Linked DNA regions of Homo sapiens: region 1 is linked to region 2. Evidence: fine-mapped expression QTL. A gene starts in region 2. The other region holds a variant in brackets. All regions are shown on one strand. Distances are between the middles of the regions.

The links. PIP is the estimated chance that this variant, and not a neighbour inherited with it, causes the effect.
Region 1: its variant is fine-mapped to the expression of ANP32A in tibial artery (GTEx, PIP above 0.99).

What each region holds. Positions count from the first base shown.
Region 1 is chr15:68,766,412-68,771,931 of GRCh38, reverse strand. No RefSeq gene overlaps it. Among named protein-coding and RNA genes, the nearest start is that of MIR4312, 33 kb to the left of the region's middle. The variant A/G (reference allele first, on the strand shown) is at 3,061.
Region 2 is chr15:68,818,641-68,823,640 of GRCh38, reverse strand. ANP32A (acidic nuclear phosphoprotein 32 family member A) reads left to right here and starts at 2,746. Exons shown (of 7, transcript NM_006305.4): 1 at 2,746-2,943. The coding sequence starts at 2,890. RefSeq lists enhancers at 1-184, 3,466-4,047, 4,048-4,629 and silencers at 2,205-2,264, 2,335-2,494, 2,545-2,794, 4,295-4,404, 4,665-4,904 and 1 more.

The sequences.
Region 1 (5,520 bases), 52 kb after region 2:
GAAGGTCAACAGATGGAGATGTGCTAGGGCTGAAGGGTTGCTGGGGTTAGTGAGAAGGTCAAGGATGTGACTCTGGGAGCAGGTGTCTCATAGCATACAGGAGCCGACTTTCACTGGAGATGAGGAGGTTGCAGAAGTGAGAAGCCAAGGTATTGGAAGGTTAATCCTTGAGATTGTTGACATTGCTGAGAATGATAATGGGAATAGTAATAGAAAAAAAAATAATGAATCAAAGCTAGTCCTCACTCATGCAGAAGCCAAATGCAGCAACGAAGAGGCACTCATGCCTCTTTGAAGGAGAAGGGAGGAGCCATGGAAGCAGTAATGTGGAACAAAGAACAATGCCCCAGTTCCAGGCTCTGGGGCCCAGGAAGAAGGGGCAGCCATCCTTCTGGCTTCCTCATGAGAAGTCTGCAGGGGGAGTGGAGTTATCAGGCAGGGAGCAAAAGAGGAGGTTCATCAACTGCTTACCAATGGACCACACATGGTCCCAGCAGGTTGAGGACGTGAAAAGGGTAGAAAATAGCCCTTGTTTTTCCTGCTATAACGTTCATGTATTTTCTTAATTAATTTTTAGAGACAGGGTCTTGCTCTGTTGCCCAGTCTGTAGTGCAGTGGAGTAATCTTAGCTCACTGCAGCCTCTACCATCTGGGCAAAAATGATTCTCCCACCTCAGCCTCTTGAGTAACTGCCTGGCTGATTTTTTTAATTTTTTTTTTTTTTTTTATAGAAACAGTGTCTTACTAGGTTACTCAGGCTGAGCTCAAGCAATACTCCCACCACAGCTTCCCAAAGTGCTGGTAAAGTGCTGGGATTGCAGGCATGAGCCACTGTGTCCAGCCACAGAGCACTTGCAGTGCAGCTAGAGACTAAGGAATGGAGCTTTTTTTTTTTTTTTTTTTTTTTTGAGATGGAGTCTCACTCTGTCGCCCAGGGTGGAATGCAATGGTGCGATCTTGGCTCACTGCAACCTCCACTTCCTGGGTTCAAGCGATTCTCCTGCCTCAGCCTCCCAAATAGCTGGGATTACAGGTGCATGCCACCATGCCCAGCTAATTTTTGTATTTTTAGTGGAGAAGGGGTTTCACCACATTGGCCAAGCTGGTCTCAAACTTCTGACCTCAAGTGATCCATCCGCCTTGGTCTCCTAAAGTGCTGGGATTACCAGCGTGAGCCACTGCACCTGGCCTAGTAATGAAGCTTTTAATTATATTTAATTAATTTAAGTGGAAAGAGACACAGGTGGTTATCATATTGGACAACACAGCTCTAGGCTTTGCTCTTCAGGGTCCTGAGCATATACATGGAAGGAAGTATTTTTAAGCTGCTGGTGCAGCAGGGCTAGGGCAGGCTACAGAGCCAGATTTTTCTGTTCCAGTGCTTATGGATGTCCACAGAGATGCTGGCTGTCTTGGGTTCTGCTTGTCTTCTCTGAGTCTTTGGAGATTGCTGGCCTCTCCTTTTGAGGGCTGCCCAACTTCCTGCAGCCCCACACCCTCACTTCTCTGTTCTAACCAGGAACAGATGGCAGTCACTGCCTGTTGTCTCCAATCCACCCACCCTCTCAGACCAGTTCTGGCAAGAAGTTCACTGACTGAGCATCCATTTTCCAGATACATAAGTCAGGTGTCCCCTGTCACCTCTGGCCAGTGTTCCAAACTTCATTGTTAGAATTCAGATGGCAGGGGGAAATCAGGAACACCACTATACCATCCAAGCCCCATCCAGACCATACAACAGGTGTTTTGGACAACTGCAGCAAAGGTTCCTCTATCACCTAAATATGATGGCAGCTCCAGGGCCACAGGCATTCAGTTCACTCTGCTGTTCTCTGCATGACCCAGGCAAAAATGAGCTGCCTAAGCTGGTTGGTCACCAACACTAGGAAGCCCCCTGATTGGTCAGGTTCTGGCTTGGACACCAACCCTTGCTTCAATCATCTGGTGAGGGGGCTCCTGCTTTAATTTATAGGCCCTCTCAACTGTGCTGAAAGAACTGCCTGGGCCCACTTTCCCAGAAGAGGCTGTGGGCGTGCTCACCACTTGGAGCTCCACGGATTGTCTAAGGCAGCAGAGTGCCTGAGTCTGGCTGCCCACACTTCAGCACTCTAGATCCCCCTGTGGGCCTCAGTCACAGAACCTGTCTTTGCTGGCTTCCTTGAACCCTATCCATATTCTACAGGTGCCTACCTGACTTGACTTGCTGGCTTCCTTGAACCCTATTCATATTCTACAGGTGCCTAACTGACTTGACTTGACCTCCATCGTTTTGGTTCCTGGCACAGTCCTTATTACTACTTATCAGCTCGAAGCTGTTGCCATTCAATTCCTTAGCAGGCAAAGCGGGGCAGAAATATGGAGTTTTTGCAGTGAGGGGTCTTAAACAAGAGGATAAACCCATGGTTCTGTTGACATTATGGAGTCAAACTTCTCGACAGATTGGTTTTTAGGAAATGGACCACACTCCAGAAAATAGTAAATGAGAGCAGATATATAAAGATATATGGAGAGAGGTTTTGTTTTTTTTGTTTTTTTTTTTTTTTTGAGACGGAATCTCACTCTGTCACCAGGCTGGAGTGCAGTGGCATGATCTCAGCTCACTGCAACTTCTGTCTCCTAGGTTCAAGCGATTCTCCTGCCTCAGCCTCCCAAGTAGCTGGGATTACAGGCACTTGCCACCACGCCCGGCTATTTTTTTTTTTTTTTTTTTTGTATTTTTAGTAGAGACGGGGTTTTACCACATTGGCCAGGCTGGTCTCAAACTCCTACCCTCAGGTGATTCACCCACCTCGGCCTCCCAAAGTGCTAGATTACAGGCATGCGCCACCTCTCACCTGGCCAAGAGCAGATATTGACCACCATGCCAACCACTGGAGTAGGTATTGGGTGGGGCTACAAAGTTTAAGGAGGCTTGTTTTCTGCTCTGTTTGAAGACAGCAGACTGAAGCACGATTTGGAGTTGAGGTGTCCCTTGAGATTTTATAGTGACAGACAAAATTTTGCCAAATTTGATCAGCAGCCACCAAAAATGAGAATTCTTAAAACTGTCTCAGAATGGAA[A/G]GAGGCTTCTGACACTTAAAAATGCAGTTTCTAGCTTTCTAGGAGGAAAAAGGTACAGTAGGGGATGTTACAATATTTATTGAAAAGAAGAGAAAACAATTACTGTGCATACAAATGGGGATAGTATGTAAAGTTTATTGTCACCTGAAAAGTTAACATGCTCTAGATTCAGTAAGAAAAAAAAAATTAAAAAATGAGAAAAATATTTGAACAGACCACAAAAGAAGAGCTCCTACAAGCATGGGAATGGGGACTAATTGGAAAGAGGCACAAGGGAACTGCCTGCGGGGGATGGAATTATTCTCTTTACTGGAGTGTGGATTACACATGTGTATACATTTGTCAAAATTCATAAGCACGTGAAAAAGTGCCCAACATCATGAATCATCAGGGAAATGCAAATAAAACCCACAATGAGTTATCACTCATCCACTAAAGCAGTGAAAATTAAGGAGACTGACAACACCAAAAGTTGGTGAGGATGTGGAGCAATCAGAGAGCTATGTATTGGCTGGTGGGCTTGGAAAATGGTACAACCTCTTAGGGAAACATTCTGGCAATTTTTAATTTTATAATTGTATACATACCTTCCAACCCAGCAATTTTTTTTTCTTTTTCTTTTTCGTTTTGTTTTGTTTTTGTTTTTGAGACAGACCTCATTGGGTCACCCAGGTTGGAGTGCAGTGGCATGATCTCAGCTCACTGCAATCTTTGCATGCCCCCTCCCCAATTCCCCCCTGACCCCTGGGGGCTCAAGCGATCCTCTCACCTCAGCCTCCCAAGCAGCTGGGACCACCACAGGTGTGCACTACCACACCCAGCTATTATTTCTTTGTATTTTTAGTAGAGACAGGGTCTCGCTATATTGCCTAGGCTAGTCTTAAACACCTGGACTCAAGTGATCCACCTGCCTTGATCTCCCAAAGTGCTGGGATTACAGGTGTGAGCCACTGCGCCCAGCCGGACCCAGCCATTCTATGCCATGATATTTACCCAACAAAAGTAAAATACATTCACAAAAGACTTGTACAAGAAAGTTTACAGCAACTTTGTTTGTCATAGCCCCAAACCGGAAACAACTCAAATGTCCAAAAACATGAATGAAAAAAAAATTGGGGTGTATCTATACAACAGAATAGTACCCAACGATAAAAATCAGTGAATTACTGATAAGCACCACCCAGAAGAATCTCAGAAACATTATGCTGAGCAAAACCAAGCCAGACACAAAAGTGTACACCCCATATCCATTTATATAAAATTTAATAGCAAGCCTCTGCCAGCATGGAAATGGGGACTGATTGAAAAGAGGCATGAGGGAACTGCCTGAAGATGGAATTATTCTCTTAATTTGAGTGCAGATTACACGTGTGTATGCATTTGTCAAAATCTGGCTAGGTGCAGTGGCTTATGCCTATAATCCCAGCACTTTGGGAGGCCAAGATGGGTGGATCACCTGAGGTCAGGAGTTTGAGACCAGCCTGGCCAACATGGTGAAACCTCGTCTCTATTAAAAATACAAAAAATTAGCCGGGCCTCGTGGCACGTGCCTGTAGTCCCAGCTACTCGGGAGGCAGAGGCAGGAGAATTGCTTGAACCCGGGAGGCAGAGGCTGCTGTGAGCTGAGATCACGCCACTGCACTCCAGCCTGGGCGACAGAGTGAGACTCCATCTCAAAAAAAAAATCAACATGTTTTTGTGCTAACCCCTATCGACTCCAGTGATGATGGCACTAGGCTCTAGAGGCCAAAGAAGAGACCCAGAGCCACCAAATGTGACACGGAGTTTTACTGGGGGCTTACCTGTAGGAGAGAGAGTGCAGTCGTGGTGGCCAGGCAGAAGAAATGCAACTGCTTGCAAAAGGCATGCAGTTGATACAGCATTTCCACTTAGCACCCTAACAACCTTCACCTGGCAACCTTCATTCAGCTCAGAACTCAGAGACTCAATCTCCCATATGGGCTGTCTTCCGCAGGGTGGGACTGGGGCTCAGATGTTCCTCATAGACAAGGAACAAATCTCCAGGTTGGCCACTCCCAGATGCCCTAGTTCACATTCAGGTGTGTCTGCCATACGGGGTCATTTTCAGGGTAACCCTAAGTTATTGCTATCAGGTGCATTTACCAAACACATATAATATTTGTGCATTTCACTGTGTGTACACTACAAAAATAAAAAAACATAAATAGAGAACTTTTATTAATGATATGCATGTTGAGGCATTTAGAGATGAAGTGCACTGATTTCTGCACTTTGACGTGCATAAAAAATAAGATTAATTGATGTATATATGGTAAAGTAAATACAGCAAAATGTTCATTATAGAATCTAGGTAGTAAATATATTTTCAGGCTTTCAGTATATATGAAAAATTTCATGGCGAAATAATGGTGTGAAGATAATATGCAAAACGATGTTATAGAATTAAGATTATGGCCAATTTTTAAAAATCACTGAAAA
Region 2 (5,000 bases):
CTGTTCCCAACTCCGTTTCAAAATTCAGCCAAGATTCCTTGATATGGGATTTCTTTCTATATTTTCTGAAATGCAGTGCCACTTAGAACACTTATTTACTATTATAATATACAATAAAATGTAATTTAAAAAACAACTTTGTAAAATAAGATATTTGTAAGAGCAGTGGTTTTTTTTATATTTGGTCATGTTGTGTGGGGCAAATACAGCTCAGCTTTGGCTTTACTATATTCCTTTTTTAATAATAAAAAAGCAAAATCATATGAAAATTTTCTTACATATAGATCTATTTGTAAAAGCAAAAGAAAATTTATTTCAAGTGTGTAAGGAAAGCGGAAATTACTCAATTGGTTATACATATACTTTTGGATATTTCAATTTCTGTAACGACTGACATCCAGTGAAGCCTTCTTTCAATTTTCTAACATTAATACAAAAGTCATCAAAATGTATAAATGTAAGATGCTTCTAAAAACAACTGTCACATTTAACGTTTTGATTTAGTAATCAGGCCATGATTTTTTCGATTCTAATTTGTTTCTGTACTTTCTCTTTAATGGGGGAGGGGGTGGGCTTCTAAGTCTTCCTCTTGAGTCTTTGTACAATAAAGTGAGCTATTTGCTTCTATTTAGCAAAGCTGGATGGGGCATATCTCTGCATTTGATTGGTTGGTTTTTAAGGGATTACTCCTCTGGAAAGACACTGTCTCATATTGCATTGCTAGCAGCGTGGTCTTAACTGTGGTTAAACTTTTAAATTGAAAATGAACATTTACCATCAAAGAGAACACAAACTTCAGGACTCCTATGTTACACAGATCATACACACCATATTGACCTGTTTTGATAAGAGTTCTGTTTGAATACAATCCTAAACACCATATCCAGAAATAACAACTGTCTCAATGGCATAAATAGGAAATTTGGGGTTCCTCATGTATTACAAAGAAGCCAATAAAACTTAGAATAAATTCCAACTATACAAATAGGCTTCAATAAGATTAACAAAATCTGAGGATGACAGGCAAGTCAACAAGTTAAATAAATTATACTATTTATACCCAGATAAAATAAAACAATGACTTCTAACTTTTATGGTGCATTTCCCACCTAATCAGAGTAAACATCAGACTTCAAATTCCATTTATCATTTTATCTGAAAGAATTTACTGAGTAAAATCCTTAGTTGCAGGGCTTTACACTTGCAATCCATCAGGTTGCAATATTAAAGTTACTACAGCTTCTTCCCCAGTGTAAGCATTCTGTATGTGTTTTATTTACATTGTCACTTTTTATTTCCTCCTCAACTTCGTATGTCTAAGAATGAAACTGGATTGCTATTATGCAACAGTATTTTAACTTTGCAACATACATACTGGCTTATCTCTCCTTTGAACTCCTGTTCCTGAAAAATAAACATATGTATCCAGAAAAACTACCTTGAGGCGTGTGGGGAAGAGTGCAGACATGTAGAAACAAACACTAAAATACAGTCGTGTGGAAAGGTAAGGATGTATCTGTCCTCGTTGACAACAATCCCCGTGGTTTATTAACAGCCACAGGCAGCCAACTTAGTGCCGTAAGTCGGTAACCCAGTGGGCATCGGGGCTTTAAGGTCTCTTAAAACTTAATGTGATTCAAAAATACCCAAGGCAACCACGCCGAAAAACCAGGAGAAAGGGCTCCAGTTAGAGCCTCCTTGGCAACCCAAACCGAACCGAATGACTCAGGTGGACGATTAGAATAAACCGTGCGCCGTTCTCTTTCACTAGGTCTATAAAGCCCAGAAATTATGTTTGGTCCAGAAAACCAGGAGTTATGAGCACCTTCCTTTTCCACCTTTTAATATTCTACATATCTAGCAACGGTTCTTAATCCATGGTCTTCATTCATTTATTGCCTAAACAAGATCTTGGGTGTCTCTTGGTGATCACTTCTTCCAAGCTGACCTAATATGACAGCAAAGTGAAAAGCCTCTTCGTGGGAAGGGTCGCGACCGCGCGGTAAGTCATCCAAAAGTGGAAGCATCTTGCTTTTACTGACTTATGTATACGAGGGTGGCGATGGTGGCGGCCTGACAGGGACGAGGCCGGAGGGGAAGGGGCGCGCGGGCTGCTGGGCAGCCGCGGTGGGGGTGACGGGGGCAGCCACGCTCCCCAGCGCGAGCCGCCGGACCCGGGACCCGACGAGCCCCTCCCGGCATTGCACCCTGACCCCTCTCCTCCTTCCAGGCCTTTCATCTGCCCTCCCGCTGGGCAGCCCGCGGTCCCCGGACCTCAAGCCGCCCGCCTCCTTCCGCAACCCCGTCGCGCCGCCCCGCGAAGCCCTCGGCCGGGCGGGGACCCCGACCCGACCCCTCCGGCCGCGCCCCTCCCCCTCGCAGAACGCACCTGCGGCCCCGCCCCCGGCCGAACGCTGAGGCGGCGGCTGGCTGGCAAGGCCGGGCGGCTCGGCCCTCGAGGCACAGTCACCTTCCCTTCCCCCGCCATTCCGCCCACCCCCCTCACTCAGCCACAGAGCAGCCGCCGCGCTCCTCAGCCGCCCCGAAATCTAAAGGGGTCCGTCTCCGGCACCACTACCAAATGGCCGAGCCTCCCTGGCCGGCTGCGCAGCCCGCCCATTGGTCCCTTCCCCCCCCCGCCGCCACTGCCATTGGCTGTTGCCCGGAGACCCTCGGCGGCGATTGGCTCGGGCCGCTGCCGCTCGTCCATGGGGCCGCAGATCCCGCCTCCACGGCGATCAGGTTAGTGTGCGCCGCGGGTGCTGGGGGCTCGAGAACCGAGCGGAGCTGGTTGAGCCTTCAAAGTCCTAAAACGCGCGGCCGTGGGTTCGGGGTTTATTGATTGAATTCCGCCGGCGCGGGAGCCTCTGCAGAGAGAGAGCGCGAGAGATGGAGATGGGCAGACGGATTCATTTAGAGCTGCGGAACAGGACGCCCTCTGATGTGAGCATTTGCCAAAAATATCTCTGTCGGTCCATTCTCCTACTTTGTGTGTGTGTGTGTGTGTGCGCGCTGGGGGGAGGCACTTTTTTTGGGGGGGGGCGCCCGGGAGGTGCGGGTTTGGGGGTCGGACTGCAAGCGAATTGGCAAGGCTGGGGGGTTGCAATGCCATCCGAGCATGTTCCGGCTGCCGCCGCCGCTGCCCTTGGTGTGTGACTACCTGTGCGTGTGCTCCCGCGTGTGCGAGTGTGGGTGCGAGAGTGTGCGTGCGAGTGTGCACCCATCGGGGGCCGGCGGGCGCACGCGTTTGGGTCGGAGAGAATGAGGCGAAATCACCCTCGGAGATCGCTGCTCCCGTGACTCCGTCTGGGGGGAAGATTAACGAGGGAGGAGGAGGAGAGGGGCTGCCTCCTGGATTTAACAACAAAAAAAGGGGGTTTTACATTTTATAAATGTATCCCCCCTTCCGCCCCCCTCCCGCGCCTCCCCCCTCCCTTTCTCTCGCTCGCTCGCTCGCACACACAATAAGTTTGGGGCTTCGCGAGTCCGGTTTAGTTTCTGATAAATGTGGGCCGAGGCCCCCGGGGAGAGCGCGTGGGGAGGGGGCTGCAGCGGAGTTGGGAATGGCTGGAGTTTAAAGTGCGTCTTCATTTCTTTGCAGTGATGAGGCGAGAGACGGGGGAGCCATATTTGTAACTTTGTAGTGTTCGTGAACGCGCCCTTTCTCTCCCTCCCTCCCTTTCTCTGCCTCCCTTCCTCTCCTCCTCTTTCTCCCTCACTCTTTCCACCCCACCTTCGGGCCAGATGCTGATGTTTCTTCCTTTCCTTCCGAAGGGAGGATAAATTAGAAGGAGGGGGAGGGATTTTCGAACGTGCTAAGGCACAGATAATCCCCGCGTCTCCCTGCCTCCAGCGATCGCTGGTGCAAGTTGCCCAAAGGCTACGTCCCGGTGCCCCCTCGCCCCAGCTCCTTCCGGCTTCCCCAAGATGCCAGCCTTTGGGCCCTGGTGCCCCCCAGCTCGAACCCCCGGCCCGTCTTTCTCAGTGCTGGGCTTGTCGGCAGCCATTCGGCGCCTGCTTAATAAATGGGCACGGGAAACTTTGTCAGGACGCGAGCTGCCCGGAGCTGGCGCCCGTGGTGGGTACTGGCTGGGTCCACGTTTATGCGGGCATGGCAAACACGCAGCTCTAGGATGGGAGTTTGCCCGCTAGCCGCCGTTATTGATTGGGCAGCGGCGGGAGCACGGCCGGAGGAAACTTACACGGGTGGGAATCGCGAGGCTCGAGCGAAAGCTTACCCCTGAGGAGGGGGAAGGTGAGGGTGGGTGACTCGAACGCTGGTTTTTATTTCTGCCTCCCTCTCGCTTTCAAACCTGAGTGTTTTCGGCGAGTTGGCGGCTCTGGGGCGGAGACCCTGGCCAGCTCCCCTCTTGGCCCCTTGGGGGGACCGGGGACGCGCTGGCGGGAGGACGCCCCCAGTCTCGGTGGCCCGAGCTCCATGGAGTTGGGAGTTTGGGCAGCACCGTGCGCTGGCCTGTCGCCCCTCTAGCCCGTTAAACCCGAATCCCGGCGAAGGCAGGCCTCGCTTCCTCTTTTCCCTAGTTCCTCCCCCAAACCTGAGTGAGACTTTTGAAAACAAGATCCTTTTTGTCTACCCCCTCCCCGCCTTAACGCAGCTGTGGACTGGAGACGTGCGAGTGCCTTATGGCGCGCAGGGCGGGGAGGGGGCGGCCGCGGGAGAGGAGGGGGCGCCGCCGGTGGAGGCCGGAGTTTCCGCGCACTATTTGCGGGCGGTTTGCCTCTCTCCGGCCGCTTTCGTCCCGGCCGGGACCCGGCGCCTAGCGTTTGGGGGCTGGGTGTGGTGATGGGGGAGGGGGCCGGGGCCGCGGTCTTCCCGCGTACTTTCCGGAAGCCCCCTGCGCGGAGGGGGAAGGGCGCCAAGCGCGGGGCCGGGGTCGCCGCGGGTGGGTGCGGGGGCGCGGCTGGCCTGGCGAACCCGACCGACGCTGCCGGCCCCCCGGGAGCAAGCAGGAAAGCGGGTCGAACCGGCTCTTTAAACT